Linked DNA regions of Homo sapiens. The protein of the gene in region 2 interacts with the protein of the main gene of each other region in a biochemical or structural test. Each region holds a gene or a part of one and is shown on either strand. Other genes may lie near its edges. The genes, in order: IPCEF1, CYTH3 and INAVA.

Region 1 (13,476 bases), on a different chromosome or scaffold from region 2:
TAACATAAATGAAAACAATGTAATGTGTAGAATGGTAGACCACAGGCTCAGAGACACAAAGGTCTGGGTTTGAATCCCTCTCCCCTGCCTATTGTGGTGGTTTGAGGCAGGGGACTTTACCTCTCTAAGCTTCAATTTCATGGAGATAACAATAGTACTATTTCCCAGAACTGTTTTAAGAAGTGGCTTAAATAGCATAAAAAGGAACAAGATCATGTCCTTTGCAGGGACATGGATGGAGCTGGAAGCCATTATCCTCAGCAAACTAACGCAGGAACAAGAAACCAAATACCGCATGTTCTCACTTACAAGTGGGAGCTGAACAATGAGAACACATGGACATAGGGAGCGGAAAAACACACACTGAGGCCTGTGAGGGCCGGGGGAGAGGGAGAGCATCAGGAAGAATAAGCTAATGGATGCTGGGCTTCACACCTAGGTGATGAGTTGATCTATGCAGCAAACCACCATGGCACACATTTACCTATGTAACAAACCTGCATATCCTGCACATGCACACTGGAACGTAAAGTAAAAGTTGAAGAAAAAAAAAAAGAAATTGTAAATGTAACTAAATGTAAATGTAAACTAAAAGGTAAAAATAAAAGTGCAGATCACAGTGTCTAGAACCTAGCAAGTGCTCAGTAATATCATTGGTTTTTTATTCAGCATTCCACGTATGAAATATTCAGAAAATGCTATAGAATCTGTTGGGAATCCTATCTTGCTGCTGTTTCTATTTCAATGCTTAGTGCATGCTGGGTTTTTGTTTCTTCAATTAATTCTTTCATTTCTAACTTGACTTAGTTTTCCTTGACGATCTGGTCATTTTTTTATTCAGACTTCTTTTGAAAGACTCATCCACATTCTAGTAACTTTGGGCTGAGTTTAAGCTGGCTCACTTTTCACCTTTCAGCTGCTTCTATGTCAATCCCTGTGTCAGTCTGGGAGACCTGTCTTTGCTCACATTTGTTCAGCCCTTTGCCTTTTTGTCTGCCGACTATCTCTCCTTTCTAAGACAAAGATTGATTCTAAGACAAAGACAGAAGATTCTTTTCAATGCCTACAAGCCAAAATATTTTATTTTGGTTACGTCCCTGATAAGGGACTCCATGGTGACCTGCTGGCCCTGTGAGACGGCAGGGCCAAGATTCTAACAACAGGAATGATAATTCTTGAATCTATAAAATAATCTGTGACTCTATAGAAATGTTTTTATGACCTCTCCCTATGAGTACCAAGATGATAAACATATGGCAACATTCCCTAAGAAATGTATTAACAATTATATTGGGAGATTTAAATTTAACTTATAATTAATAACTGACAAATTGACTATTGCATTTTTTAGGAAATCATCAAACTCAGGTTTAGACGCAGTTATAAGTCATCCAGAGAAAATAACCCATTTTCATGTCATTCTAGGAATTAATCAGACCAGCCAGCCCCAGTGGGACCACGTTTCCTTTTTCTCACTTCAGAGTTGACACATGATTCTGCACCAGCCTTACTCTCAAAGGGGATTTCCCTACAAAGACTAAATAACATAAATTTTAAGTGTCATTTCTTAGACTGCAATGAACCATGAACTTCAGCACACTATCACTAAAACATTGCTTTTGTCGTCCTGTTGGTGGAAGATTTAAGGAGGGTTACATTTTTGTCCATTTCTTTTCTTTTCCTTTTCCTTTTTTTTTTTTTTTTTTTTGAGATGAAGTCTCCCTCATTGCCCAGGCTGGAGTGCAGCTGCGTGATCTCGGCTCACTGCGCCTCCCGGATTCAAGTGGTTCTTGTGCCTCAGCCTCTTGAGTAGCTGGGATTACGTGCGCCCGCACCATGCCCAGCTAATTTTTGTATTTTTGGTAGAAACAGGGTTTCGCCATGTTGGCCAGAGTGGTTTGGAACTCCTGACCTCAGGTGATCCGCCCGCCTTGGCCTCCCAAAGTCCTGGGATTACAGGCATGAGAGCCACCGCACCCGGGCCTATTTACTTTCTTTCAACGTTTGTTTTATTTTCAGATTATTAAAATAGTTCAGGTATGTTCCACTAATGAAAAATCTGGGAAGAAAATAGAGTACAAAGTACAAAGAAAGAAGAACCACGAGCTATAAGCCCACTACTCATATATTAACATTTTAATGCATTTCACCCAAATCTTGCTTCTCTGCAGTATTTTTACATAGTTGAAAAAGTTATGTTCCTCCTTTTTGGACTTAGCATTACATCATGAGACTATTTCCATAAATATCATTTTCTTGATGACATTTCTTTATATACCACCATGTGTTCAACCATTCTGATAACTAGGCTTATCATATTTATTTTAAATTAATGATTCTTTTAAAAACTCACTTTCACTTTACAAAATTCAGAAAATGCACAAAGCATAAAGAAAAAAAGAGAAATTAGAGATTAAATTTTTAAGCGTGGCTCTGGCAACTTGAAAACTGATATCGATAACTGCCATTTAATGCAATCATATTTTTAACCCTCACACAACAACCCAAAAAGTCAATATGTTATAGTCACCACTTTATAGGTTCGGAGGTCACAGAGCTGGTAGGTTCAGAGATATAGATTTTGAACAGATATGTCTGAGCCCCCAACTGTGTTTTCTCTTGGCTAAATTATACTGACCTTCCCATGATTACCTCCACCATTACCTCTACTACCATCACCTCCAACCACCATCTCCGCCATCTGTACCATCACCTCTACCATCACTTCCTCAACCATCTCCACCATGTCTACCATCACTTCTACCATCTGTCACCTCCACCGTCACCTCCAACCACCATCTCCACCACCACCTCCACCACCACCTCCACCATCTCCTCCACCACCACCTCCACCATCTCCTCCACAACCACCTCCACCATCTCTACCGTCACTTCCACCATCACCTCTACCACTCCAATCACCATTTCTACCATCTCCATTACCACCTCCACCATCGCCTCCACAACCACCTCTACCATCTCCACCGTCACTTCCACCATCACCTCCCCTACGACCACCACTTCCAACACCACCCCCTTTATCTCCACCTCCACCTCCACCACCATGTATCGCCAACCCTTTCACTTTACTGACCTGGGGATTTTTCTGATCCCCGTTCTACACACCCTTTCTTTACTCCACACCTTCATATTCTCCTCTCCTCCTCCACTCTGATCTTTTCTAACATTCACTTTTTAAAGTGCCTGAGTAACAGAGATAAAGCAATGGCTTTCCTACCACATTCATTTTATGAATTATGCCAGTTATTCATTCATTCAACAAATATTTACTGAGAGCAGGCACTGTTCTGAGCACTTGGGAGCACAAGTAACTCCTCCATTTGCAGGATTCTCTTTAAGGCTAAAAAGCTTATTTTTTAGGATTTTTCTTCACACACACACACACACACACACACACACACACACACACACACACACACCATTTGCCACATTAGACCTACTTGCAAATTGTTAACCTGTACTGCAATTATCAGCTCACACTGCAGAGCCTCCAAGCTGGATGGAAAGCAGAAGTGAGCTGTTCAAAAGGATGCACGAGTCAAAAGGAAAGTCTCAGGCAATAGTGATGAAGTAATTTCTTATCTCTTATTGCCACAGCAAACTACCGCAGGAAAGAACTTCCTATTTCCATACTCTGATGATGTATATTTGCTTAACACAGCTTGCCTGAAATAGTTCATACATGGACCCACTCCAGAAAAGACACTTGATTTATAAAAAGAGGAATGGAAGGAAATTATAAGGTAAATTAAAGAATGAGTTCATCAACACATACACAAACTTACACCCTTTTCTTCCTTGCTTGCATGATGTGAGCAGAAAGAAATGTGTGTTCTTTCCATTTCTGTTTCTTTTCTTTCTTTCTTTCTTTTTTTTTTTTGAGATGAACTCTTGCTCTGTCACCCAGGCTGAAGTGCAGTGGCGCAATCTCAGCTCACTGCAACCTCCGCTTCCCGGGTTCAAGCAATTCTCCTGCCTCAGCTTCCCAGGTAGCTGGGATTACAGGTGCATGCTCCCACGCCCAGTTAATTTTTGTATTTTTAGTAGAGACGGGGTTTCATCATGTTGGCCAGGCTGGTCTCGAACTCCTGACCTCAGATGATCCACCCGCCTTGGGCTCCCAAAGTGCTGGGATTACAAGCGTGAGCCACCGCACCCGGCATTCTATTTTCTATTTTCTTTTCTTTCTTTTTTTTTTTCTTCCTGTAGAGATGAGGTCTCATTATTTTGCCCCCAGGCTGGTCTCAAACTCCTGACCTCAAGTGATCCTCTCGCCGTGGTCACCCAAAGTACTGGGATTACAGGTGTGAGCCATTGTGCCCAGCCCTCGGTTTCAATTTTCTACATAAAATAAATAACTCGATAGAAATTAGACTTTATCAAGGACAGCACTAGGAACACATAGGCCACTCAAGACTAATAGAGCCCACTGCTGTAGTCAAAGATGCTTCAGTGGGTTATAATTCTGACTTCTATAATTAAATACTTTCACATATACCCCAGCAAAGAAAAATCAAGTGCCCCAGACACCCTTACTAAAAGACTCTGAACCAACAACACCTAGCTTTCATTTTTATACCAGAGATATTTTGGCAAGCCTGAGACCTTTATCAAAGTGTAAAATGTCCCCCAGCTGCCTCCATGCAAAGGAAGCTCCCTTGCAAAGAACACACTTTCTCGAAAGAGGGCGGCCCCAGAGTGCTTCCCCAAATGAACTCCTCAGGACCCAAATACATGCTGAATTGTGCTTTTCTAAATCAAACCTGTGGTCTGCAGTCTAAACACCTATCAAGACAACACCCATTTAAGAAACATAAAAGCAGAGTGAGTACACAACTCTCTCCTCTTTCAAAGCTTTCACAGAATTAAAGAATCTTTAGCACCTGGCTTCCCAGATTACAGAGAGCTGAGTGAATATTACATCCCCAAAGTCATATTTCCTACCTCACTACTCTAAGGAGAGTGCTAGGGTATCCATTGCTTTGCCATCTTGATCTGTCAAGCAGTTACCTCTCATACATCAGCCAAGAAGTGACGTTACTTACATGCAATACAAAGAGAGTAAATCCAAGAGCAGTCTTATTCCTGGATTCAGAAGCCTCATAGTACTCTGAGGCCAAGCTTGAGGATTCTACTTAAAGCAGCCTCAGCTCTGGAAACTCAGTCAACCCAGAACTAACATTCAAAGCTGATCAGAGAGTAAAGCTCTTTCGAAAGAAGAGGAAGTATCATCTCCACTTCCTCAATCCTAACGTTCTTCCTTCTCATTGTTATGAAACCCTTCCTTGATGCCCATATCCAGGACACAGTACATGTAAGGCAAGCACACCCCATCTGCCTGAGTTCATTGATCACTAAGCACTGCCCAGTGTATTCATTTGCCGAGCACATTGGTGGAACAGTTCATGGTTCTGCTTTCCTGTTTTGGAGGCAAGGATGTTCATTTACAGGCATGGAGGGTGAGATGATCTGCAGAGTCATTCTCAGCATTTTTGGGTGAAATGCCACTTCAACCTCTTTAGGTTCAATCTTCTTTCAGATTTCCCTCTTTCCTCCTTTCCTAATCGTTCATAATGCTCTAATAAAGAGAGGGTACAGACACATTTGTAAAACGTATTTTAGGATAAAAATAAGTCTTAGCCTGCCATCTTTTGCAGTAGACATAGAAGAGTCTCTAACCACAAAACTTTTCTTTCCCACATTGGAAAAGGAAAATGGCAGGCTGAAAGTCAGAGATATTCCATCTCATTACAAATTCCTGCCCTCCCAATCTCCCTTTCAACACCAGCTTCTTGTTTCTCTATACCTTCTAGGGAAATGAATACAGCTGGGCGTGGTGGCAGATGCCTGTAATCCCAACCACTCAGGAGGCTGAGGCAGGAGAATTGCTTGAACCTGGGAGGCAGAGGTTGCAGTGAGCCGAGATCGCACCACTGAACTCCAGACTAGGAGACAGAGCAAGACTCCAACTCAAAATAAATAAATAAATAAATATGTATGTGTATATATATATATAATATATATATATAATATATATATTATATATATATTATATATATATTATATATAATATATATATTATATATATATTATATATATAATATATATATTATATATATTATATATATATAATATATAAAATATATATATTATATATATAAAATATATATAATATATATAATATATATATAAAATATATATAATATATATAATATATATATAAAATATATATATAAAATATATATATATATAAAATATATATATATAATATATATATAAAATATATATATATAATATATATATAAAATATATATATATAATATATATATAAAATATATATATATATATATATATATATATATAGAATATATAGAATATATAGAAACCTAATCCCCAATGTGATTGTATTTAGAGGTGGACCTTTGGGGAGTGATTAGGTCATGAGGACAGTGCCCTCATGAATGGTATTAATTTTCTTATTAAAGAGAACCTGGAGATCTGCCCACCCCTCCACCATATGAGGACATGGCCAGAAGACAGTCACCTAGGAACGAGGAAGCAGGTCCTCACCAGACAATGAATCTGCTGGCGCCTTGATCTTGGATGTCCAGCCTCCAGAACTGTGAGAAATAAATGTCTTTTGTTTGTAAGCCACCCAGGCTACGGTGTTTTGATATAACAGCCTGAATGACTAAGACAAAGATAAAATGTAAACTAAATCTGTGGAGGAGTGAAAAAATGAAAGAAGATGCTGTACATTTTGAGCAGGAACAAAATGAAGGTTCTCTCAGCGGCTTCTTGTTTGTGTACACTTCTATTTCTGGAAGTGCTGCCTCATCTTCTCCCTATATTGAGTTGTCTTCTAGTTCCCTGCTTTACGTAGAAAAAAAAATGGTACTAGGTGATATTAAAGGAATTTAGTGGTATCAACAGCATGGCCTGGCTTCTCACCAGACATTTAGATGCCATCATCAAAGATATCCTCAAAAGACATGTTATTTACCTTTATGGGGCCAGAATAGAGCCACTTAAATTCTTTGAGCAAAGATGATTTGTAGAATTAGAATAATCCTCAAAACGGCCGGACTGTCAGTTCAAGATGACGGGCTGACCACAGATTTGCTCCCTCCCTCCCCAAAGACTCCGTTAAAATGAGAAAAGTATAAAAAGTTTATAGGGCCGGGCACGGTGGCTCACACCTGTAATCCCAACACTTTGGGAGCCCCAGGCTGGCAGATCATGAGGTCAGGAGATCGAGACCATCCTGGCTAACATGGTGAAACCTGTCTCTACTAAAAATACAAAAAATTAGCCACGCCTGGTGGCACGAGCCTGTAATCCCAGCTTCTCAGAAGGCTGAGGCAGGAGAATCGTTTGAACCTGGGAGGCGGAGGTTGCAGTGACCTGAGATCGCGCCACTGCACTCCAGCCTGGGTGACAGAGCGAGATTCCGTCTCAAAAGAAAAAAAAAGATATAAACCCACAATAACCCAAAAAAGGAGGAAAAGCATCAGAACTTGGGAGAGCACAACAGATTTCTGGCAGCCTGAAAGCCGATGGAGGAGCAATAACAGATGGAGGCAGGCAGGGGAACCACAATATCTCATTAGTTAGGAGAACACGGCGTTGGAGGAAATTGCCCGTGTGCGGTGCTGAATCCCTGAGAGGACCGGAACTCAAGCCAAAAGAAGCTAAGAGAGCTAAATGAGTGATAGGGTGACAGGACTGAAAACAGGAAGAGTAATTCAAAGTCTGTAAGAACTCAGCCCCTCCCATACCCCTCTTTCAAATCTCTCTGTCCGCCCAGCCTCTGCACAGCAAACACACACAATTCCAACCCCGGGCAGCATACCGAGGATTCGTCTCTACACATAGTGAAATCATGCAGAGAATACAGGCATTGTATGTGGATATGAGCACTCCACAGTCAGAACTCCACATTCTGGCAATAAGAGCCTCATCTAGCATGTGCTGGATGATGGATGATGTGCTTTTTTTTTTTTTTTTTTTTTTGAGACAGAGTCTTGCTCTGTCACCCAGGCTGGAGTGCAGTGGCATTAATTATCTCGGCTCACTGCAACCTCCGCCTCCAGGGTTCAAGTGATTCTCCTGCCTCAGCCTCCTGAGTAGCCAGGATTACAGATATGTGCCACCACACCCAGCTATGTTTTGTATTTTTAGTAGAGACAGTGTTTCACCATGCCGGCCAGACTGGTCTCAAACTCCTGACCTCAGGTGATCTGTGCACCTTGGCCTCCCAAAGTGATGGGATTACAGGCATGAGTCACCACGCCTGGCCTAGATATGCTTCTAATCAGTATCCTTAGAGACAGTCCTGAAGATATTGTATCCATTAAAAAGAACAGGATGCTAAGAAAGATAGATAATCTGAAAACAAGAAAGACCCCTTGGATATTGCAAATATAATTGTTAAATAAAGATTTTGATAGGTTGGGTGATAAATTCAAGTGAAATTTTCAGGAAATATTATTTGATGACATAGTCAAAGAAATAACATAAAGGATCCCCCTGAAGTCCAAGAATATTTAGATTAAAAAGTCTCATCGAGTGCCTAGGATGAAGAATTTCAAGTCACTGCAAAATTTCCAAACTCCGGAAATAAAGAGAAAATCTTAAAATCTCCCAAACACAGAAAATAAGTCACTTTCACAGAAACAAGGAATCAAAGGGCTCCAGATTTCACAGAAGTAGCATTAAGGGTTAGAAGGTCAGCGAGCACAGCCTTCAAAGTTCTGAAGGATTTATATTTCACTCTAGAATTTTGTGTTCATTCATCCAGTGTATTAGTCCATTTTCATACTGCCATAAAGAACTGCCAGAGACTGGGTAATTTCTAAAGGAAAGAGGTTTAATTGACTCTTATAAATTAAAGAGGTTTAATTCAGCATGGCTAGGGAGGCCTCAGGAAACTTACAATCACAGTGGAAGGTGAAGGGAAGCAAGGCGCCTTCTTCACAAGGTGGCAGGAAAGAGAAGTGCTGAGTAATGGGGTAAGAGCCCCTTATAAAACCATCAGATCTCATGAGAACTCACTCTCACAAGAACAGCATGGGGGAAACCACCCCCATGATTCAATTTCCTCTACCTGGTGTCTCCCTTGACACATGGAGATTATGGGGATTACAATTCAAGACGAGGTTTGGGTGGGGACACAAAGCCTAGCCATAGCATTCAGCAAATATTTTTGAGCACTGTGTCTAGGCAGTGAGGACGCAGCAGTGAACCAAATAAAGTCCTGCCCTCAGGGAACTTCTTTTCTCATGCTCAGATCAGGATGGTGTACTCTCTACACAAACAAAGAAAGTAAAATATAATGTGTTAGGTAGAAGTAAGTGCTAAGGAGGAAAAATAAATCAGCAGAGGAAATATATAGAGTCTAAGGAGAGGCTAAAAATTAGATGGGGAGGCCAGCAAAGGACTCACAAAGGTGACCTCTGAGTGACAGCCTGGAGGAAGTGAAGGCGTGAGCTGTGTAGACAGCTAAGGGAAGAGAAATCCGCAGACAGAGCCCCAAATGCAAACATCCTGCCACCCCCAGAGCCTTTTGGTGCCGCAGGAACAGCATGGGGGCAGGTGTGGCTGGAACAGAGCAGAGCGGGTCAGAGATGGAGAGGGGAGCCGGGGAACCCATGATTATGGTTAGGTCCTATGGGGATCGTTGTGAGAACTTGGGTTTTTGACTCTGACCAACTAAACCAGGAGCTGACAAACTATTTCTGGAACAGGCCAGATAGTAAATATTTTAGATTTCGTGGGCCAATCTCTGTTCAATTACTCAACCCTGCCATTGTGGTATCAAAGCAGCCATAGATAACATGTAAAAGAGCAGCTGTGCTCTAATAAAACTTTATCTAGGGCCACTAACATTTGAACTGCCTATAATTTTCACGCATCACAAAATCTTCTTCTTTTGATTTTTTTAAGCACCTAAAAATGTAAAAAACTGTCATAACTTACCAGCTGTGCAAAAATAGGCAGCAAGCCAAAAGCGGCCCGTGGAAAGTAGGTTGCTGATCCCTGAATGAAACCATCAATTAGGTGTGAAGGTAGAACATGCCCGTTTTCAGATATATCAGAGCTGACTCAGAAGGCTGACTGCCCACAAATCCTTTCTTTTTTTTTTTTTAATTTTTATTTTTTGAGACAGAGTCTTGCTCTGTTGCCCAGGCTGGAGTGCAGTGGCATGATCTCACCTCACTGCAACCTTTGCCCCCCAGGTTCAGCGATTCTCCTGCCTCAGCCTCCCAAGTAGCTGAGATTACAGGCGCCTGCCATCACGCCTGGCTAATTTTTGTATTTTTAGTAGAGACAGGGTATTACCATGTTAGCCAGGCTGGTCTCGCACTCCCAACCTTTAGTGATCCCCCCATCTCGGCCTCCCAAAGTGCTGGGATTACAGGCATGAGCCACTGCACCCAGCCTCCACATACCTTCTTAGGAAGTTACTTGATGATGGACCCCAGCAAAATAAGGGAGTAAACTAAAAAATGGAAGTGGTGGAATCCGGGAAACAGAAGACTCAACCTGGGAGCGTTGCAAAGGGAAATCCTTGGATGGGAATCAGGCAGCTGAACCACACAGCAAACATCAGCATGGAGCTCGGTAAGAGAGGAAAAGTTTCCAAAAGCAAAGTATTCAGGGGAAAATGGAATCACAGAGCGTGATACCACCCCTGAAATTATGGAGTAACCAATATGGGCAGCGCAGCCAAAGAAAGAAAAATAGAAAAACAATTAGAAAACATCAAGAAATAACAATAAAAGCAGTAAAGGAACAGAATGGAATTACTCTATACTGTTCGGCTTGTGAAGTTAAGGATAATTTTTACAGGCATAATAATGCAATACTCACAACTGATTTTCAATTTTGAGGATCAAGATCTGGAGAAAACATGTAAAACAAGAAGATACTGTAAGTGGCAGAGTGTGGTGGCTCGCACCCGTAATCCCATCTTTGGGAGGCTGAGGCAAGAGGACTGCTTTAGCCCAGGAGTTCAAGCCAAGAATGGGCAACAAAGGGAGACACTGTCTCTGTGTATATTTTAAAGAAAAAAAAAGAGAAAAGATTAAGACAATATAAATGTTAAAGTATGCTGGACTCTGATGGCAGCCACTAGCTACTAAAAATTAAGCTTTAGCTAATTAGAATAAAGTAAAATAAAAATTAAGTAAAAAAAATTAAGTAAAATAAAAATTAAGTAAAAAAAATTTCGGTTCCTTGGTTGCACCAGCCACAGTTCGAGTGCTCAGTAGCCACTGGTGTCCAGAAGCTCCCATCTTGCACAGCACAGACATGGAGCATTTCTCTTCATCTGGAAAGTTTCTTTGGAGAGCCCTGGGGGACATGAGAGGTGGAAAGAGAGGTTTGAGAGCCAACTTACAATTTGAGGATTGATTGAGATTCTCCACAAACAAGAAACAAGTGGGACCATATTATTTTAAAAGTTACCCAAGTAACTGACGAGCACTAACCAGGGAGTTAATTATAACACACAAGATCTGTGTGATCAGCTTGGAGTGGAGACAGCTGCAGCAGGAGAAGGTGGCTTTCCTCTTAGTTCCCCCTCCCTGGAGACCCCCGGGATCTCCAATTGTCCCTGTTTAGCAAAAGTTGGTCCACCCTTCAAGGTTTAGCCCTGATGTTAGGATGTTACTTCCTCAGTGAAGTGTTCCCCATCCCTCAGATTTAGCCCCTCCCTCCTTGTTCTCCCAGCATCCCGTGCATGTCTCCAGTGCACATTGTCCTGTGTTATTATAATGATGGTGAATCAGGGCATGCGACATGCATTCTCAAGGTCCCGGTCCTTAGAAGGGCCCTGTGCTTAGTTTAATGCTCTGCAGTCACTCTTTTGAAATGTTGAATAATTTATGAATAAGAGGTCCCCTATTTTCATTTTGAACTGGATCCCACAAATTATGGAGCCATCCTGTTTTTAAGTTTGCCTCTCTAGCTGGACTGTCAGCTCTCTGAGAGCAAGGATGCATCATTTTTGAGATTTGTATCCTCATGATCTAGTACAGGGCCCTCACTAAAATGACCATCTTCCCTAACTGATACTTATCTATATTTTTCTTGTGAGGGCTGTAATTTTATACTCCAAGATCCAAGGACATAATCCATCTCTCAGAAAAGCTATGGTTTGTAGGCTATTGGGAGCCTCTCTCACACCGTCCCTAAACCATCTCTGACTTTCTCTGATGCCTGAAATGCCATAATTACAGTTTTAGTCTTGCTTTTTTAAGGCATTTCCTTCTGTTGCACCGCCAGTCTCTCTGGGAGAGGTGGCCTTTAAGCTTCACTATTGAACTTTAACGAATATGAATTTGTCAGATCCCTTTAGTTTAGACAGAAACATCCCCATCCCCAAAGCAGACGAATCATTTTAAGTTCACACTTTGAACACATAACACACAGCTGTTACTGATTTGGGATGACGGTGGTAAGACATGTAGACAAATAACTCAAACAGCTTTCTGAGCCTCAGCCACTATAAATCAGCAAAGTGAAAATTTTAATGTTATACATGAAAATATATCAGTATTCAAGATTTTCTTGAAAAATTTATAGTCTCCAACACATGTAATATCATCTCAAATTTATGTCTGAAACATTTTCTCATCTTTCCCACTAATCAGGTATAAAAACCCTGCCCTGCTTTATTTACTCTTGGATATATCTATGGAACATGTGCTAAAATCTGGGGGCTTTGCATCTAGGAAAGGAGGAGAGTGTAGACAACCAAGCAGACTAGGAGGGGCAGTGTGTGACAAACGCTGTGTGCCTGATGCTGCGTAGAAGGATCCTGAGAGAGGCCGAGGCGGGTGGATCACGAGGTCAGGAGTTCAAGACCAGCCTGGCCAAGATGGTGAAACCCCATCTCTACTAAAAATACAAAAATTAGCCAGGCGTGTTGGCAGGCACCTGTAATCCCAGCTACTCGGGAGGCTGAGGCAGAGAGTTGCTTGAACCTGGGAGGCGGAGGTTGCAGTGAGCCGAGATCGCGCCACTGTTCTCCAGCCTGGGCAAAAGAACGAGACTCTATCTCAAAAAAAAAAAAAAAAAAAAAAAAAGAAAGAAAAAGAAAAAGAAAAAGAAGGACCCTGAGAGGTCGGGGATGGAAGAAGAGAATCTGGCAGGCTGTCCTTCATGGAGGACACAGCATAGACCCTGATCTTGAAGCACAGACGAGATACTGACAGGGGGAGAAGGAGCAGGAGATGACAACCGCTAACCTGAATAGAGGCTCAGATCAGCTGGTTGACGATCAGCTCAGTGGTTCTTGCTGAGCTGGCACAGCCTCCTAATGGGCATTTTAGAGATTTTGGTGGGATTTTGTTTGTCACAGAGATTGAGAGTTGTTCCTGGCATTTGCAGGGGGTAGGATGGGTGGGTGGTGATGGTGGTAGTGGTGAAGGGCGTTTGATTCCCCTCAAA
Region 2 (8,934 bases):
ATTACCCTTATTCCGAATGGACGAACACTTTCTACCACTGCTGACCATTGTAAAATACCGTGTATATAAATCCCATTGAAATAATGCCCTGGAATAGAACATCTCAAATGCTGCTTAATTACAGACTCAGGTCGATTACTTGTATTTCATGTAATGTTCCTCCAAGTTAGACATCTGGTGCAAGACCAACCGGGAGACCATGGAATTGTCAAAAGTACAAACTGACAGTGTGTATATTTAATTTAAAGACTTATTTAAAAACTCACAAGCTCTCACCTAGACTTTGGAGAGCAGTCTGTTTTCTGTAATGTCTGATACTAGAAACTAATTTGCTTATTTTAGTTGTATTCAAGATTTGAAGATGTATTTTATAGACAAGTTCTGTTTTTGAACTTTGTGGAACTGTTCCAATCAATCAATTTCCCAGTTATGATGAGTATTTACATTATGAATGTATAACCCAGACATGATTTGTAAAGCCGACAGTATGTTTCTATTACACAACACTTTTTGATACAGCGTCTCTTGTCTTCACTGATACTGGAGTCTCCGTTGTCTGCTTGGTCCCTTCGAGTTTCTAGTTACAGACACAATCATACTGTGATTTTATTTTTAATATGGATATGCTATCAAACTGTGATACACTTATAATTCACTGGTCCTGCATCAGGAGATGGAGTGGGGAAAACTGTATTTAATACAGTTTGTATCTGAATAATCTGTATGGTTTATACAGTTTGTGTTGTTCAGAGATGTTTAAAGTTTGATCTTTGTTTTTCTAAAGATTAAAAAAGCACTTGCCCCACTGTAAATATACAGCATGTAAAATTTCTATAGTATATAAATGGCAGCAAATCACACACTTGGCGTCTTTTTACTGTTGTTTTCCCCATTTGCTTCCAGACTCCTTCCTGTCATCATCTGAATTCACTTTCTTAAAACCTTCAAGTAAGTGCTCCTGCCGAAGTCGGCACCTTCGGCCAGGCCATCCCACCTCGGACGGGCAAAGGAAAATTGGAGGGGTGTTTGCTGGACCCAACAATATCTGTTTTAAAGAACCAAGTCTTAGGCTTGTTTTAACAATACATGTGATTTTTATTTAGTGAACACAGTATCTGCAAGAGCTCTGACAGCCATCCACCCTCCAATCTTACTTCACTTTACAACCAAGTATCAATAGAGGCTGTTCCTTCATGCGAGCTGTGGGAGTATATACATCATTGAATAACAGACACTCCAGAAATCAACAGATGTACATTATTTACATATTACTATATTTACCGCAAATAGAAATATTTTCTAAGAAAAAAAGTCAATTTGTGGTTTCTGGTCTACCACAGACCTAACTTCTCAGCAAAGCATATCTATGTAGATATCTGCGTTTGTAACTTTAAAAATAGGCATTGCTTTCTATGAAGCACTAAGTGCTGCTCCATCTATAAATAGCTCCTATTTTCAGTTTGGTACCACATTAAACTGCCCCAAAATGTTCTGTGACCCCAAAGACACAAAGTTGCTGCTTATCTGGGTCCAGGGTCAGTACAATTAAACTCAAATATGAACCAGGGCGGCCAGCAAGACAGGCTGGAAGGGCTGTGGCAGTCGCCGCCGCCTCCCCGCGGGGCTCCCCTCACTGCCTCCTGGCCTCTGTCTCTGGAAAAAAGTATCTTTGGCCAGAGTTGGGACTAACAATTCAAGCCCTGCGCTCAGACGTCAGGGTGGGGAGGAGGAGGACTGTGATTGTGACGCGGCCTGCCCAGGGTGAGGGACAAAAAACAGATGTGTCCTGTTTCAGGGCCGTCCTGGTAGCGGCTGGCCCTGCGCAGTCACTGACCCAGAGTTTTCTGGACCAGGCCTGCCTCAAGGATCAGCAGGCATGATGGTCGCACAGCCTTCATGCTAATACTGTCCTAACACAGCCTGGAGCTAGGCGATTTCCTTTGACCACAAAGTACCTGGAGTCTAACTCAGCACCACAGCCTCTGCATGGCTCCCAGGTGCCCACCACCTGGCGAAGCTCATTCACAGATGACAGCAAAGGGGGAGCTTGATCATCTGGCGACTCCTTCCTGCTGCTTCTCCCAACACCCAAAACAGAAAGCTCTGCATCCCCAGGTCACACCTGGGTTGGTCAGAAGAAGGAAACAGCTTGTCCGAGCACAACATGCTGACAGAGCTGGCTGTGGCCAGTCTTGGGTGCCGGGCCAGCCTGAGGGGTGGGCACCGCCGGAGCCGGCCGTCAGTGTGTGGTCTGGGTGGGGGTCCAGGCAGCATTTATTTTCATGGAAGACTGGAGGCCAGAGTTGCATATCTACCAGTCAGGCATTTCAAGAACGCTGACTTGCCTTTCTCAGAACTAAAACTTCCGATTTGAGGTATCAGTAACAAAGCCTAAGAACGTGGGAATGAAAGTCTGATGCAGGACAGGGGTTTCTGGCCTCGGACCCCTCTGCAGTCTAGTGTGACTTAAAGCTACATCAAGGTCAGCCGCAGGGAGGCGAAGGGCCCGCAGCCGCTCGGCCTCCACTTCAAGGCAACTCAAAGAACAGTCTCCGCTGCTGAGAAGGAAACCTAGGTGCACAAAGTCTGAGGTTTTGTCTCTGGACTGGGCATTTTGCACAGGAGTACAGATGCCCTCCAGAGGGTGCAGATTCAAGGTGTGTGTGCCTATGCAGGTGGGGCAGGAAGAGGAAGTCCATAGAGGAAAAGCCAGCCACCAACCCAACAGCCCACTGTGTAACAGGGTCCTGGGGACGCAAATCTCCCGACAGAGAACAGCGTCTGCCACCGGCCCGGGTCGGCCCAAGCACACAATGCCCCCGGTCCAGCCCTGAGCCCTCTCTGTAGGTGGGGCCCAGATCCAGCCTTCCTTGAGCGGAGCACTGGGCACCTCCTATCCTTACATCCACAGCAACCTGACAACCTCCCAGGCGGGCGTGGAGTTTGACCAGTTCCACCACCGGCGTCTATCTGGGTTCTCTACGTGCCGGGCCTCTGCACCCCAGGGCCTGTTCTTCCCTCCTCGTAGGGAGGGCACCTCTCTCAGGACACGGCGCACTACATGGGGTGAGACTGTTTTTAGTTAATTCTGTGTCTATTCATTAAGAAATCTGGTCAAATTAGAAAGTCTGTAAAATAAGCGTTCATTTTGCCACAGGTTTTAAATAGCGATGAATATGGTCAAAAGCCGGTCTAACCTGCTGACCTGTATGAAACGCTGCCATGTGTGTGCATCTAAACAAAACATCAGCAGTTTCACGTGGCTCAGCGTATGGACCATCTGTGTCCAGGGAAAAGGCTGTTTCCTAGGAGTTAGCAGTTACAGCCTAAACACCCCCAAACCATTAACTGTTATAATTTTAATGATTTGCTTAAAGTATTTGTGGGGCCAAAAAGCCTGGTTGAAGGGAGGCCTCATGGGAGTCACCCTGGAGCCCCCAAGTGCCATGGCCGTCCCTCCCCCAGCCCGTCCCGAGCCCACCTGCTGCCCCCCGGGGCTTGTCTGACAGCCTGACAGGGCAGGGCTGCACGCTGCCCCCGTGCCGGTGCCCCCAGCCCTCCCCTTGGGTGCTGTGTAGATGGATATTTTTTCAGTGCACAGTATATACTTGTGTCCAGGAGTTAACTTTATAGCTGCCATTCTAAAAATACTACTGTTAGAAAGTATCTTTTGTTATAATTTCAGAATATAAAAAGGCATATAAAAGCTATAATCCTATATATCTGAGAAAAATTCTGAATAAAAAACTGGTAGCTTTTCCTTTCCTGTTTTGCTATAAAACAGTGGCTTTCTAGAACGGTTAATACTGCCCCGAGTGAATGCGTTTGGCATGGTACGAATGAGGCTCCCGTCTGTGGAATCCGTCCCGTGTCTGCTGTGGAGACAGCGGAAGCTGCTGTCCTGGCTTCTCCCCCTAGGGGCGCCGGGATGGTCGCAGGAAGGAAATGCTTCTGGACATGCGCAGCCGACCATGACCCCAGCCACGGCAGGAGGCCTCGAGGATCAGTCTGGGCCACGGTACGCTCTGGAGCAGCAGCTTGCACTGCAGGGCGACCACCTCCCAGGACCCCAGCCACGGCACGAGGCCTTGGGGATACCACCTGGGCCACGGTATGCTCTGGAGCAGCAGCTTGCACCGCAGGGCGACTGCCTCCCTGCCACGCCTTCCGCGGAGGGGCCGCCCGCGGTGTCTTTCTGCTGGGGTTGGGTCTTTTACCTGGGTCTTTTAGCCAGGAAAGCTATTTTTTATTGGCAATCCTTCGTTTCCTCGTTGCCAACATGTCATAGAAGGGATCTCTGCTGATACTGGCTCTGGTGAAAAAAGGAAAACACACAGGTTAGGTCGTGGGTGACACACAGACCTCCCCTTTCCCACCAGCCCCAGAGGCCCCTCAGACAGGACCGCAGGCTCAGATCTGAACGTCGGCTTTGGCAGCCCGGCCCTCTGGGGTTTCTGGAGACAGAAGGTCCACTCTTGCACACGGAAGCATCCATGTTCCAGACCATCCCCCGCCCTCCAACCGGCACGAGAAGACGGGCCTGGCCCCGCCCCCGAGGCCCCACTCACTTGATGGATTTCATCCACTCCTCCTTCTCCTCCGGGCTCGGGGCTGAGATCCGGTACACCACATGGTTCCCCTCTACCACGCGGCCGTCGGCCTCAGTCTTACAGGCCTTGATGACCTGCCCTTTGTGGCTGGGATTGTAGAGCTCAAAACAGTTCTGGTGGAGAAAGAGAGAGGGGAGGCGGTCAGGGGGGCTTGGGGCAGGTTCCCTGCAGGCAGTGAGGATGGCTCCCAGGTGGCTGGCAGGAGAGAAGGTTCAGGAGGAAGAGCTTACGGGTTTCCGGGGGTCCTCCACCTCCCTGATGCTGAGGTTTTCCAACGGGATGATTCCCCTGGGCTCCTTATCCTACAAGAGGAAAGTACACGGCGGGGCTCACTGTGGGTCACCAGCCTGAGGGTCCCTCGGCCCCAGGGCAGCTCCGGGACTGCTGGGAGGCGGCAAGGAGGCCTGGCCCTTACTTACTGTTGTGTATTCAAAGTAATAGAGGCAGTTATCGGTCAGGATGAACCACCGGCGCTTCCAGGTCTTCACACGCCCTCCTAGAAGCAGAAGGGCCCCGTGAGTCTGCGCTCCGTGCACAGGGAGCCCGCGGGTCCAAGAGGGGGCCCTGGACCTGCACAGACCACTGCGTTTTCAGAAAGGCCACCAGGCGCCAGGCTTGGGTTCAGGTGTCCTTCAGCGTTCCCACCGCAGGGCCCCACATGCACCCACCCCGCCCACACCGGCGCCCCCTCCACGGCACTGATGGGCCCCTTGATGACACAACCGCGCTACAATTCGCTTCCTGGGAGAGTTAGTGGGATGGATGGCGTCATTTTCCCACATGAGATGGCAGTGTGATGAAGTCAGGACTGCGCGCCTGGCTCTGTCCAGGACCTGACCCCACCATGTCAGGTGGTTATCGCATTACAGAGGCCCTTGGGCAGCCCTGGGATCCATCAAAATCAGTCACCCCTGGGCCCAAGGAATCGTGAGACTGAATTAATTTTGTAACAAGATCTGGAGCACACGTGCACACGCACGTACCCCCATCTGTACCTGCCCTCCTCTCCCTAAGGGAAGGAAATCTCTGATCCTTAAACACTGAGCAGAGACAAACTGACTTCAGCTGCTATAGCCTTGCCGGTGTTTGTTTTTTAAATAATTCAAAGAAATACACGCTGGTGACAATGAACTCAAGTGCTCCCTGGGGTACTAGGCCCTCTCTGCCCCATGCCTCTCCAGCGCTGCGGAGCTCACCCGGCTTTCTCTGTGACAGGCCGGCAGGGGAGTAGCCCTCCCTCCCTAAGTGGGGGCCAGCACGGGCGCTGAGGCCTGGAGGCAAGACTGTGTGCGAAGGGCTCTGTGGATGGATCACCAGGACACAGGGGGCTTTCCCTGTTGGGGCCTGGTTTGCAGAGACCCTGGGTGAGGAGGAACCAGCTGCAGGTGGGAGGAAGCCTGGCTCAGCGGAACTGGAGGCCGGAAGCGGGTCTCTGCAGTCCCTCTGGGACCCTCTGGCCCCTGCCTCACTCAGTGCTGCCGTCCTCCTTTGATGCCTAAGGCAGCCTGCAATGCGGTTGCCACCGCCAGCCTGGAACAGGAGCCCAGCCTCCAGCTGTTCCTCCTCTCCCCACAGGCCCCAGTCTCATCAGTGTCCCACCAGCCTACCTGTTAAAGGGTCTGTCTAGACCCTGGTCTGGGCAAATCTGCCCCCAAGCTCTCTGCTGCATCTCCCCAGCCCTCAGACCCTGCCCCCAACATCTCTCCTGAGCCCTGGCGGGGCTTCCACTCCCCGAACCCCTGCAAGCTGCTCCGTCACTGGAACCCTCTGCCCCAACTGTGGCACCGCCTCACTGGTCCCCTTTAAGACCCAGCCAGGCCCACAGCAAGGCCCAAAGTCCTTGTTGCCCTCGTGTCCCTGTCTCACCGCGGGCTCCATGCTCTCTGCAAGCCCTTGGCCTTCACCTTCCCCACCTCCACTGCAGCACACCAGGGAGGCCCAAGTCCACAGGGGAGGGCAGGAGACCCTGGGGGCAACCTGCCTTGTCCCACAGTCCTCCAGTGAGCAGTGAGAGGTGTTCTATGTCCCCGAGACCCTAGGGACAGGAGGACAGTGCTGATTCCTTCCAGGCACTTGCTCCAGCTTGAACTGCTGTGGCAGAATCAGCTGACAGCAACTCCACTACCCTGACATCCGTCACTGTCACGGTCGCCTCTGCTTCCCTCCAGAGACTCCAGAGCAGGCCCCGCTCCAGCTGCACTGGTGCCAGCTGCCATCCCCCAAACAGCGGCCAAAGGCATCTTTTCAAAAACGTGGCAATCATGCCCCTCCGGCTTGAAGCCCCCCAAAGGGTCCCACTGCACTCAGCTTTAAACCCAACTCCTTGGGCGGCAGCAGGGGCTGCCCTTCCTGGCTCCCCAGCTGTGGCCTTTCTCCCTGCCCTGTTATCTGAGTCTCCAGTTCTTGGGGAGCTCATCCAGGAGCCCCCAGGTTGTGTGTTTCTGTCCAGCGCCTGCTCTCTTCCTCCACGCTCCCAGCATGGTGGACAGCAAAGGACCTGTATGTTCCACTAGCCCACACACCTGGCCCCGCCTGGGAGGGGTCTGCCAGGTGGCCTCTCAGCTCCACCTTGGGTCCCCCGCTCACACCTCCCATGCAGAGCCCCATCCCTGTCCAGTCCTCAGGGCCAGGGGGTCGTTGCAGACCAGGACTGCAGGCCCAGGGAAGGGGTGATAAGCTTGGTCTCAGAGCCGAGCAGGCTCTGCTCACACTTGTTTCTGGCCACACCACACAGCATTCTCGCCTGCAGACAAGAGCCTGGCTTCTGGAACCTGCAGATGGGAGCCACTTTCTCTCTGTAAGTTTCTGTCTTCATTGCCGTTAGCAGGCAGGCGCGTACGTGCACACACAGGTCCACATGCACACACTTTCTGTATGGCAGCTCGGATTGGGCCACCTCCTAGGATTTTTTTTTTTTTTTTTTTTCTGGTGATTGATTCAAGACTCGAAGTCTTAAGTTACCAACAATCGTAAGCCACGCCTGTGTACACAGCAGGGCTCCTACGCTCTGGCAAAGCATCCAGGCCTTTTTAAGACCACCTGTTCTAAAAGCAAATCTACAATAAGAATGCAACCAAGCCAGGCCGCACTCCCCGCTGAGCACACGCCTGGAAGCACGTTCTAGATCCTGCACCCATCTCGTCTGCCTCCAGCCAGGGCCCTGGCTCGCCAGCCTTTGGTCTCGAACTTTGTTTCTGAGAACACAGCAGACATACAGGGTGCTGGGAGAGGACAAGGAAGCCAGCCCCTAGAGCAGCAGGTGCTCACCGGGCCGCCCACCACACTGAGGCCACGCCAGCTGGACCAGCCCCTCCAGGGCCCCTGCGCTTGGCACCCGGCGCCCAGCCAGCTCTTGGTTCCCGTGAGCACTGTGTGCACTCATTTCATGGCCTGTTTATCTGCCCAACCAGAAAACAGGTTAGACAACACGAGCTCTGCTGTGCCTTCATTTCATTCACACACTTACGTCTCTAGAGCCGACCTTTCCCTGGTGGCAGGGGTCACATTGGCTGCCAGGCAGGCTGATGGCGTCACTGTCCCTCGAGGGGACACTGGTGGGCAACGCAGGAACCAGAAGGGAGGCATCTAATCAAACGAACATCCCACTTATCCCGGCCCCAGAGTGCCTGCCGGCATTTCCGGTTACATTCCCCCCCACCGGCCCTCACTCTAGAACACTCGCACAATGTGATTTGAATCGGGTCTCTCAGGCACCCGAGCCAAAGACCATGGTACTAGGTTTTCAGGCAAATATCTACAACTCCCCTAAACCTCGGTACAGCCAGAAAAAAGTCAAAGAGCAATGGCCAAGGTCAAAGACCCTAATGGGAATGGCAGACCTGTGGGACTCACACCCTTTCCACCAGCTGAGGAGGCCTGTGCCCGTCACACCGTGTCTCACCCTTCCTTGATGTTTATTTTTTTGAGACGAGGTCTCACTCTGTCGCCGAGGTGGGAGAGCAGTGGCACAGTCATGGTTCATTGGAGCCTCAACCTCCTGGGCTCAGGCCATCCTCCTGCCTCAGCCTCCCTAGTAGCTGGGACTACAGGCACACACCATCACGCCAGGCTAATTTTTTGTAAAGATGGGGTTTCACTATATTGCCCAGGTGGTCTGAAGCTCCTGGCCTAAGCAATCCTCCCACCTCAGCCTCCCAAAGCACTAGGATTACACACATGAGCCACTGCACCCGGCTGATAAAATTTTTAAAAAATCACCAGGATGCTCCACTCCATGTCTCACGTGCTGCCCAGCGGCCGCCTGCTCTCAGAAAGGCTTGCGTGAACCCAGCTACCGCATCTCGCCCGCTTCACTGTGGGCATA
Region 3 (9,931 bases), on a different chromosome or scaffold from region 2:
CAAATTTGTCACTTTTCTGCAGTGTCCAAGAATGACCATGAAAGCACTGTGTATATTGCTTTGGGGATTAAAAATAAAGTTTAGCAACTAGGAAAATTACAAATACTGAATCTGCAAATAATGAGAATTGACTGTATGTTACTTTCTAAGTCATCTGCTACTTGGTAATAGTTTAAATGGCTAAGCGTTGACAGGCAGTATTGGCCATACCATATGGGGACTGGGGCACCATGAAAGCACTGCTGAATTCTCCATCAGCTTAAATTGGCTGGTCAGGCAGCACTGAACTGGGGGCAGCTTGGGACAACTGCTCTCAAGTAAAGCAATGGATTTTGTTTAATTTTTAAATTTTTTTTGAGGCAGAGTCTTGCTCTGTCATCCAGCCTAGAGTATAGTGGCGCAATCTTTGCTCACTGCAACCTCCGCCTCTCAGGTTCAAGCGATTCTCCTGCCTCAGCCTCCTGAGTAGCTAGGATTACAGGCGTCCGCCACCACACAGCAATAGATTTTATATTTTACATGCTACGAGGGCCATTTTACAAACCATGCCTTTGTGCAAATTAGGAAAAGGCAGACACAGCCCCATACCTGGGTGCATTAGTAGAGTGAAGTGAAGGCTGGATTTCAGCCCCTGCCGGTCTTGGGCTGCAGGTAACTGCTCTGGGTACCACATGACAGCTTTTACACGTTCAAGTAAGGTACCTGGCAGTGCCTACCGAACAGATGCTGTGGATGATCTGCCACTGGACACGGTGTACCTAAGCTGAAAGTACTTAATGTAGTACTTTAAAAAAAGTAGTTAATGTAGTACTTTAAAAAAAGTAGTTAATGTAGTACTTTAAAAAAAGTACTTAATGTAGTACTTTAAAAAAGTACTTAATGTAGTACTTTAAAAAAAGTACTTAATGTAGTACTTTAAAAAAAGTACTTAATGTGCTACTTGATGTAGCACACTTTACACGAATCACAAGCTTGTGAATGCAGCAGGAACACTTTTGCACACAGGGAAGGAATGCGTTGGCACCCACGCAGCCCGGCAGAGGGTTTGTTGGTTTGCTTTGGGAGACTTGACCTAAGACCCTTGCACGAGGGCCATGCTTGGGCCTTGAGGTAGAGCAGGACTCACCTGTTTTAACTCCACCTCCCGCCCCAACCCCAGTGTGGAGTTTCTGCCCCCCACACTCAGAATGCCTCTCTTTCCCTCTTCAGGGTGGATTCCTTCCGGGCGGGTCCTGAGGGCCGAGGTCGCAGCGCCTTTCCCCGCCGCCGCCCCACTCACTACACGGTGACAGTGCCAGATTCCTGCTTTCCCGCGACCAAGCCCCCGCTGCCCCACGCCGCCTGCCACTCCTGCTCAGAAGACAGTGGCTCTGACGTCTCCAGCATCTCCCACCCCACTTCGCCGGGCAGCAGCAGCCCCGACATCTCCTTTCTGCAGCCTCTCTCCCCTCCCAAGACCCATCGTCACCGCGGGGCCTGGGTCCCAGCCGGCAGCAGAGAGCTGGTCGCCCACCACCCCAAGCTACTGCTGCCGCCTGGCTATTTCCCGGCGGGGCGGTACGTGGTGGTGGCTGAGAGCCCCCTGCCGCCTGGCGAGTGGGAGCTGCGCCGCGCAGCCCCGGGCCCTGCTTACGAGGAGGAGGGCACTCCCCTGCGCTACCAGCGTCTGGTGCCCTCCCGCAGCCGCATCGTGCGGACGCCCTCCCTGAAGGACAGCCCGGCAGGCCGGGGGCTCAGCAAGGCCGCCGTGTCCGAGGAGCTCAAGTGGTGGCACGAGCGTGCACGCCTCCGGAGCACCCGCCCCCACTCACTGGACCGCCAAGGAGCTTTCCGGGTCAGGAGCCTGCCCCTTGGGAGAGAGGGCTTCGGACGAGCCCTGGGACCCCGGGCACAGGTACGGCTGCTCTGGAGGGACCCCGGGGCCAGGCAGGAGGGCTGTTTTGTTGGGGAGGGGCTGCAATTCTAGTATGTCCAAGGGTACAGAGGCATCAAAGCAGCAACCTAGTGGCCGGGTAATCCCCGTCTAGGAAGAACAGGCCAAAAAATCATTTCCTCTTGGCTTTGGAAGGCACTCTTGGCTTCCCTGGGGCACCTCCTAATTTTGCCTGCCATGTCTAGCTCAAGAGCATATACACTGGTGGAGATGATCCCCGAAGATAGCTGAGACTTTTTCTCTCCCTAAATGATGATGCACAAAGCAGATAAGCCTCTTCATAATCAAAAGTCCAGTCCAAATCAGCCCCTCAGATTTCCATTTGAAGGTCTAGGACAAAGGGAGAGTAGGAAATGAGTTGCAGAAGCCAGAACCTGTGATTTTCTGGGCATCAGCATCCTCCCTGACACCCCTCCTCACCACCAAGCCGAGAAGAAGGGTGGCATCAGAGTTAAGAGCACCCACCCTCAAGCTAGACCACCAGGTTCAAATCCCAGTTCTGCCACTTACGAGCTGTATGATTGGGCAAGTTACTTAACCCCTTTGGACCTAGTGTTTCCTCCCCTGTGAAATGAGAGTAGTAGAGTACCTATCTCATAGGGCTGCCAAGAGGCTGAAATGATTAGAGCAATGCATGGTAAGCGCTAGATATGTGATATTATTATCATCTGGGGCCACAGAGGCCAGGGAGCAGGCTGGAGGGTAGTATATAGGATAGAGCACCCTGACACTGGGTAGGGTGGCAGCCTTGGTTTCCTTGGCCCCTATTTCTTCATTCTGGAAGTGGGGAGCCACACACAGGAATCCTTTCTTTATTCTTTCTCCCTGGTACGGAGGGCTCTGCAGGTGATGTGCTCCAGAAGTTACCAACAAGCTGCTTCTTTGAGACCCCAGATTCCCAGCAGACCCAGCTGCGTGTCCCTCCCCCACCCACGGTTCTTTGGACTGCAGCTGGCATCCTGGGCCTGGCAGCACCCTGGCCCCGGTCCGAGGCCGCGCCCTCCAGCTGACGTGCTTTTCCCTTTCTGCGCGCTTGGGCCTGTCCTTGGCTGGATAGACCCAGCCCATCCCAACGTGCCAGACAGGGAGGGTGATGAGAAGTGAGCCCAGGAAAGGTGGGGGAGGAGGAGGTCAGGGCGCCTGTCACACCCCAAAAGAACATGGAGGAAAATGTGTAAAGGGGGTCCCTGAAGAACAGAGAGCATCCTGGGAGGAAGGGGCTGAGTGCCAGGGCCTGCTGCTGCTGCTGCTTCTGCTGGTCAGTGTCCCTAAGGGATAAGGATGGTGTAACTGTGCCTGCTGTCCCCGCTTTTCTGCCTGGTTCATTTACCCACCTGTCCTTTCTTCCTGACCCTGGCAGGTGCCCACAGTTTGTGTGCTGCGGAGATCGCCTGATGGGGCCCCTGTGCAAGTCTTTGTACCTGAAAAAGGAGAGATCATCAGCCAGGTGTAACTCTGCGCCCCACGCTGGAAAAAACTGTTTCATAGAGGGGCTGGGCTGAGACCCCCCCACCCCTGAGTGCCTCTTTCAGCTCCCCCATCCCCATCGCAGGCCGATGACCTGGAGCTGAGACCTTTTATTATTTTTTTTTTACACGACTTTTTTCAGAAGCCCTGACCTAAGGATTTATATATGTGGATTGTCCTCAATACCCCTGTGATATGATTATGTTTTATCCCCCAGAGTTTGGCCTACTGGACTTAAGGCCTTGCCTGTCTGACTGACAGCCTCTATCTCCTTATATAAGACAAGTGGCAGGGGACGAGTGAAGCAGAGTGAGCCACCTTGGGAGTTCTCCAACGCTCTGTGCTCTGGTTCTAAGAAATTCCCTGGGGAACTGCCCCTGGCCCTCCTGTCCCACTATTGCTGGAGGCTGGACATGGTACATACTCATGCACATGACTCTCCCCCATTTCCCAGGTCTCTGGGTACCCCAGCCTGGGCTGGGGGAGAATCTCTTCCCCCTTTTCTAATGTGCTCTGTGATGCACACACCAAGTGGTAGGTCAAAGGTCAGTATATCCCGGTGGTGTATTGTCTTGCTAGACCCTGCTATTTTCCTGACCCCCTAAATCCTCTTTAGGGACCCAGTCACTATACCCTGTCTATGCCCTGTGGGCTCCCAGACCCCTGAGCTTTGAGTCAGTGGCATCACAGTTTGTAGCCTCAGGGGGTCTGGCTGGGGGCTGGTCCATGCTTGTGGTTAGTGGACAGCAGCCACCCTTTGACAGCTACCTCTGGGCATCTCAAGGGCTTGCAGCCCCACTGCTCCTTCTAACATTTTGTTTGTTTTTGAGATGGAGTCTCGCTCTGTCGCCCAGGCTGGAATGCTGTAGCAAGATTTCGGCTCACTGCAACCCCCGTCTCCCGGGTTCAAGCGAATCTCCTGCCTCAGCCTTCCGAGTAGCTGGGATTACAGGCAAGCACCACCATGCCTGCTAATTTTTTATTTTTAGTAGAGATGGGGTTTCATCATGTTGGCCAGGCTGGTCTCGAACTCCTGACCTCAAGTGATCCACCTGCCTTGGCCTTTCAAAGTGCTGGGATTACAGGCATGAGCCACCGCACCTGGCCCTTCTAACGTTTTTTCATCATAGTCCCAAAAACCAATACTTTACAAGTGGTTTTGGAAAGGCACCACTTTTGTGGCATGTTCTGGTTGGGAGAGGGAGTCACAGTTCCTACTCCCCCCACCAGCTATGCTTCTGCTCTGAGAAGGTGGTTATTTATACAAACATGGACATACTCACTCCCAAGGGCTGATGAGATGCTGAATTTTCTTTGGGGGCATTCATTAATTGTCCCAGCTGCAGCGACTGGAGCAAGTCTGGAAGCTGCCTGTGCTAAGACCACCCAGCTGTCCCTGGGTTCTCATCCTAGGGCCTTCTTTGCTTCCAGGTCAGGGGACCTGCTTCAATGAGAAAGCAACTGAATTGAGGCTAGGAGAGGTAGGGAGAGCTGAGTTCTGACTTCACCTGTGCAGAACTCTCTGCCCCCATGTTACCTGGACTGGAACAGACTGTGAATATAGCAGAAGGTTCCAAGAACTCTGGTGTCTGACCTAGAAGAGGCACAGTTCTCTCTACTGGAAAGAAAACGATGTAGCCGATTGCACAAGGGTGCCAAGGGAAGACCCAGGATGGCCCATCAAAGGAACCTGGGGGAGGATGCAGGAGGCTGAAGGGATGCACCTGGCATTTCTCTCACTGTGCTCTTACCGCATCAGCAACCCCCAACTTTTGGGCCTACTCTGCCCCCCATGCGTGAATACCCTGCTTGGATGCTGTGCTTTTCCGGTTTGTCTCTAAGCCCCTTTCTCCAGGGCATGTTGGTTTCCCTGGCCTCTCAGTGTCCTAACTGGAGCCCAGAGTGCCTTGTTCTGAGCCAGGAGACGGCTGAGCACTGGCCCTCCACACCTAAGCGTCCTTTACATTAACTTATTGGTCTTGTATAACACCTGGTGCCATTGCCAAGTGGCTGTGTCCTCAGCTACAGAGCTGGAATTGTGTGGGGTTTAGTGCTAAATACTTCAATAAAGTCTGTTTTTTGTGATTGGCTGAGCTGGGGATGAGGGATTTTTTATTTTTATTTATTTTTATTTTTTGGTGTGTGTGTGTGTGTGTGTGTGTGTGTGTGTGCGCGCGCGCGCGCGCCAGGTTTCCCCGAGCAGAGGCTGAGCCCGGCCCCCTGGGCTGCCCGCCAAGGTGGCCAAGTTGCCCGGCCCCTCCAGCTGGTCTGGCCAGGTCCCTGGGGAGCTGGTGTGATGGGTTGGGTGGTAGAGGGAGGCTCTCAGATTCTCTGCTTCCGGGGCAGGGTGGAAGCCAGCACAACCCCTGTCAAGGCTCCTTACAGCCTCTTCAGCTTGAGGAGCTGGCCTGTGGGAGTCACTTCCCCAAGGACAGGGCACTGGCCAGGCAGAGGGTAGAGATGGGTGGCTCAGCGCCTCCAAGCCATTCCTGGAGCTTTGACTGCCCGGAGCCCAGGCTCATGAGAAACAGCCCCTTCCCCATACCTGGAAGACTGGGACCCCTCCTTGGGGTGGTGAGGAGGCGGGGCTCTCCGCAGGCCCCTCCCCCATCGGCAAGAGTGCCCACAGCCCCTCCGCTGCCTGGGGTCCCACTGAGGCCAGGGGCGGGGAGCGCCACCTTGGACACTTCCGTGCTTGCCCTGCAGGGACCGCTCCAGGGCCCCGGAGCACAGCGCCCCCTGGAGAGGCTGTGCCCGGACCTGAGGCGCCGGCGTGTCAGGTAAAGGGGTCCCCCTTCCCGCCAGTTCCCTCCACAGCCAAGGAAGGGGCGGGGAAGGGCCCCGGCCCTCGCTGCCCAAGGGGCGCCTCCAGCCTTGCCTGGGTGCGGCCCTGGGGGCCGCGGGGATCTGTGGGCCTCAGGGGTCTGGGGCACTCCATTCTTGGGGAAGGTAGGGGAGGGGAGACGGCTCCAGGGTCTCTGGAGAAGTTGTGGGGTATCCTGATCTCAGACCTGAGCGCTTCGACCTATTATTTGTGGGGAATGGGGCGCTGGATTCTGTATTTTAGACGATGGTGAGTTAGGCCCGGGGAAAACAGGGTGAGCAAGTTCCCAGGGGATGACCTGTCCAAGGGGCAGCTCCCAACAACAGGACAGAGACCAGCTAAGAGGGGGGATACAAAAGAGACGGACACAGGGGCAGAGCAAGGCCCTTTAAGGCAGTGAGCGATGGGACGCGCCCGTTTGGGGACCCGAAGTGCAGGGCGGTGAGAGAACCAGGTTGCACAGCAGTTTCTTCCTGGTCCACCAGCAGGCTTCCCTGGGCCATGTCTGGGAGGGGCAGACATGTGGGGGCTCTTAGCTCCCCTACCATAGGGCAGAAGTAAGGTTATGAATTAGGGGGTGGGGACAGAAGCCTCTGGGAAGAGGGGACCTCGGGATTTTAGCAGCAAGACTCCCAGAGGCAATTTGGCCTGGAGGCAGAGGGATGGCCACTGTGACCTAGGAGCCCACCTGTGAGTCTGAGATTCTCTATGCTGGAAGATCCCAGAATGGAAGACTACTAGGCAAATCAGGAGGGACCAGGGCCCTTCAGAGGGTCCCGAATCTTCCCATGGGGAAGAAATGGGAAGCTGACCCTGGAACCCGGCACTGGCCCTACTCAACCAATTCCTTTTGTGGTAAATGGGCAGGGTCTGCCTCCTGCAGCTTCCCCCTGGAGTGAGTGCAGAGGCTGTATCCCTAGGAAGGAGTATCTTACACCAGGCCTGCCCACTGTTCTCATCGCAAGCTGCAGGCTGCTGCCCCAAGTGTACAGATGAATCCGAGTTCTAACAAGCGAAAACCAAACAGAGTAACCTTTGAACCATCGACATTACAAATCTCTTGGAAGTCCAGCTTACCGGGTGAGCAGTTGGTTCTGTCTCTCAATTAACTGTGGGTGCTCAGAAGTGGTGGTGATTGCACAAGCCCTCGCTTGAGGTGTACCTAATGGGCACACATCTGCCCACTTCTGGCTACCCCTGTCACAGCTCTAGTCTCTGCATGCCTGTGCTTTTTCAGGCCTGCCTCCCTGAGAAGCCTGGAGCTGAGCCAGGAACAAGACATTGCCTGAGACTTTCAGTGACACCTCCTCTAGCTGACAGCTGTTCAGGAGAGCCAGAACGCTCTCTCTCTCTCTCTCTCTCTCTCTCTCTCTCTCTCTCTATATATATATATATATATATATATATATATAATTTTTTTTTCTTTTGAGACATGGTCGCATTCTGTCACCCAGGCTAGAACGCAGTGGCACCATCATACCTCTCTGCAGAGGTATGACCTGGGCTCAAGCAGTCCTCCCACCTCAGCCTCCCAAGTAGCTGGGAGTACAGGTGCGTGCCACCATGTCCAGCTAATTTTTGGTTATTTGTAGAGATGAGGTCTCACTATGTTGCCCAGGCTGTTCTCGAACTCCTGGGCTTAAGTGATTCTCCTACTTTGGCCTACCAAAGTGCTAGGATTACAGGCATGAGCCACTGCACCCAGGCAGAGAAATCTTTAGATAACATCTACATGCCAACAATTCCCAAATTGGTATCTGCAGTCCAGATCTGCAGTTCTGGAATTCCAGGCTCTTACATCCGACTGCCTATTGATATCTCCACTTTGATGCCTAGTAGACATCTCAAAATTAATATATTCCAAACTGAACTCTTAACTTTATTCCCAACTGCAAATTTGTTCTGTTCCCCACATCAGTTAATGGGAACTCAATCTTTCCAGTGTCTCAAGGCCAAAATTCTTGACTTCTCTCTCTCATACTCACATCTAGCCATCAACTATTCCTATTGGTTCTACCCTCAACATGGATACAGAATCTGATCATTTGCATCTAACCACCTCCCTTGGTGTGAACCACCGTCTCACCTCTGTATTATTGTCATAACCTCCCAGTTGGTCTCTTGCTTCTGCCCACACCCCATGCCATTCTCCACCTCTACTCCTGATCTATTCTCAGCTGAACAGCCAGAGTGCTGTTGTTAATCAAAGTCAGACCACTTTTATTCAAAACCTGCCCAGGGCTCCTGTCCCCAGAGCCAATTGTCTTTACAATAAGCTACGAGTCCCTCATGATCTGCCCCATTACTGCTTTACCTTCACCTCCCACCACTCTTCCCTGCTCCTCCCATTCCAGACACCCAGGCTTCCTTGCTGTTCCTTGAGCTTTCCAGGCACGATCCTGCCTCTGGGCCTTCACACTTGCTGTTGCCTTGGCTTAGAATGCTTTCTTACCAGATATATAAATGGCTTGCCATTCACGTTCTTCAAGCCCACTTAAATTCAATGAGATTTTCTTTGACCTCTGTGTATATACAAACCCAAATGGGCAAATACAAAATAAAAATTCTTTTAGAAGGGTAGTTCCTATGAAGGAACTCCCTGGTGTGTAAGAAGCTCTGTGACAGCAAAGATTATTGTCTCTTTTGTTCCCTGATGTGTCTAGGAGAGTCCTTTTACATAGTAGGTGCTCAATAAATGTATGCTAAAGAATGCACTCATTGATTTCCTACTATATGCCAGGAAGCATTCTAATTTTTTTTCACATATTAATTTATTTAAATCCACAACAATAATAGATACTGTGATGATCATCCCCAGGTTAAGATGTCAGAACTGAAGCTTGGGGGATTTTAGTTTGCTCAAGGTCACTTCTTACATGTATTAAGACTCATTGTTCATTTAATCCTCAAATAATAACAGATAGTATCATCTTCCCTGTCATACAGATGGGGAAGGTAAAGTTGACAGAGTTTAATTTGCTGGAGATCACAGAGCTGATGAAGCAGAGGAGCTGAACTTGGAACTCATGCAGTTTGGTGCCAGGGTCATTGTGTGCAGCTCCCGTGCTTTGGGTCCAAGTCCTATTCTGAGAGGCTTTTCTTGCAGGGCAGTGTGAGAGGGCAGCAGCAACTTGAACTCAGGCCTGTGTCCCATGCTGCTTTGGAGCCCAGTGGTGTCACCAGCTCCTTCCTCTTGCTTTACCTTCTCCCGACTTCACTTGGGGCAAACAGGCTGTATTCCTGGCCTCAACCCTCAGGCTCAGAGAGGCATGCCCTGAAGGCTGTGCCAGTCTAGTTGGCAAAGAAGCCTCCCAGGCTGACTTGGGGTTTCAAGTCCATTCGCAATCAAAACTTTCAAAGTCAGTCTAGGACAGCCCTAGAAATTTGTGGCCACTGGGAGTGACTTAAAGGTCTCCTCCCAATTGTTTTTCCATCCCGGGCCATTGGGCCATACCTGATGCAGAAAGTCTTTTTTTTCTTTTCTTTCTTTCTTTCTTTTTTTTTTGGAGATGGAGTCTCACTCTGTTGCCCAGGCTGGAGTGCAGTAGTGCGATCTTGGCTCACTGCAACCTCTGCTTCCTGGGTTCAAGCGATTCTCCTGTTCTCCTGCCTCAGCCTCCTGAGTAGCTAGGACTACAGGTGCATGCCACCACACTCGGCTAATTTTTTATTTTTAGTAGAGATGGGGTTTAACCATGTTGGCCAGG

The links.
Region 1: the proteins of CYTH3 (region 2) and IPCEF1 form a complex in vitro, tested with the Homo sapiens proteins (one study listed by BioGRID).
Region 3: the proteins of CYTH3 (region 2) and INAVA form a complex in vitro, tested with the Homo sapiens proteins (one study listed by BioGRID).

What each region holds. Positions count from the first base shown.
Region 1 is NC_000006.12:154,351,606-154,365,081, forward strand, and holds the start of IPCEF1 (interactor protein for cytohesin exchange factors 1), read right to left. Parts: upstream 5,199-13,476; 5' UTR 5,067-5,198; intron 3,536-5,066; exon of another isoform or gene 3,462-3,535; intron 1-3,461. UniProt on the Homo sapiens protein: Enhances the promotion of guanine-nucleotide exchange by PSCD2 on ARF6 in a concentration-dependent manner.
Region 2 is NC_000007.14:6,160,705-6,169,638, forward strand, and holds the end of CYTH3 (cytohesin-3), read right to left. Parts: intron 5,107-8,934; coding exon 5,030-5,106; intron 4,913-5,029; coding exon 4,841-4,912; intron 4,724-4,840; coding exon 4,569-4,723; intron 4,313-4,568; coding exon 4,240-4,312; 3' UTR 1,075-4,239; downstream 1-1,074. UniProt on the Homo sapiens protein: Promotes guanine-nucleotide exchange on ARF1 and ARF6. Promotes the activation of ARF factors through replacement of GDP with GTP. Plays a role in the epithelial polarization.
Region 3 is NC_000001.11:200,910,244-200,920,174, forward strand, and holds the end of INAVA (innate immunity activator protein), read left to right. Parts: intron 1-1,209; coding exon 1,210-1,894; intron 1,895-3,293; coding exon 3,294-3,386; 3' UTR 3,387-5,499; downstream 5,500-9,931. UniProt on the Homo sapiens protein: Expressed in peripheral macrophages and intestinal myeloid-derived cells, is required for optimal PRR (pattern recognition receptor)-induced signaling, cytokine secretion, and bacterial clearance.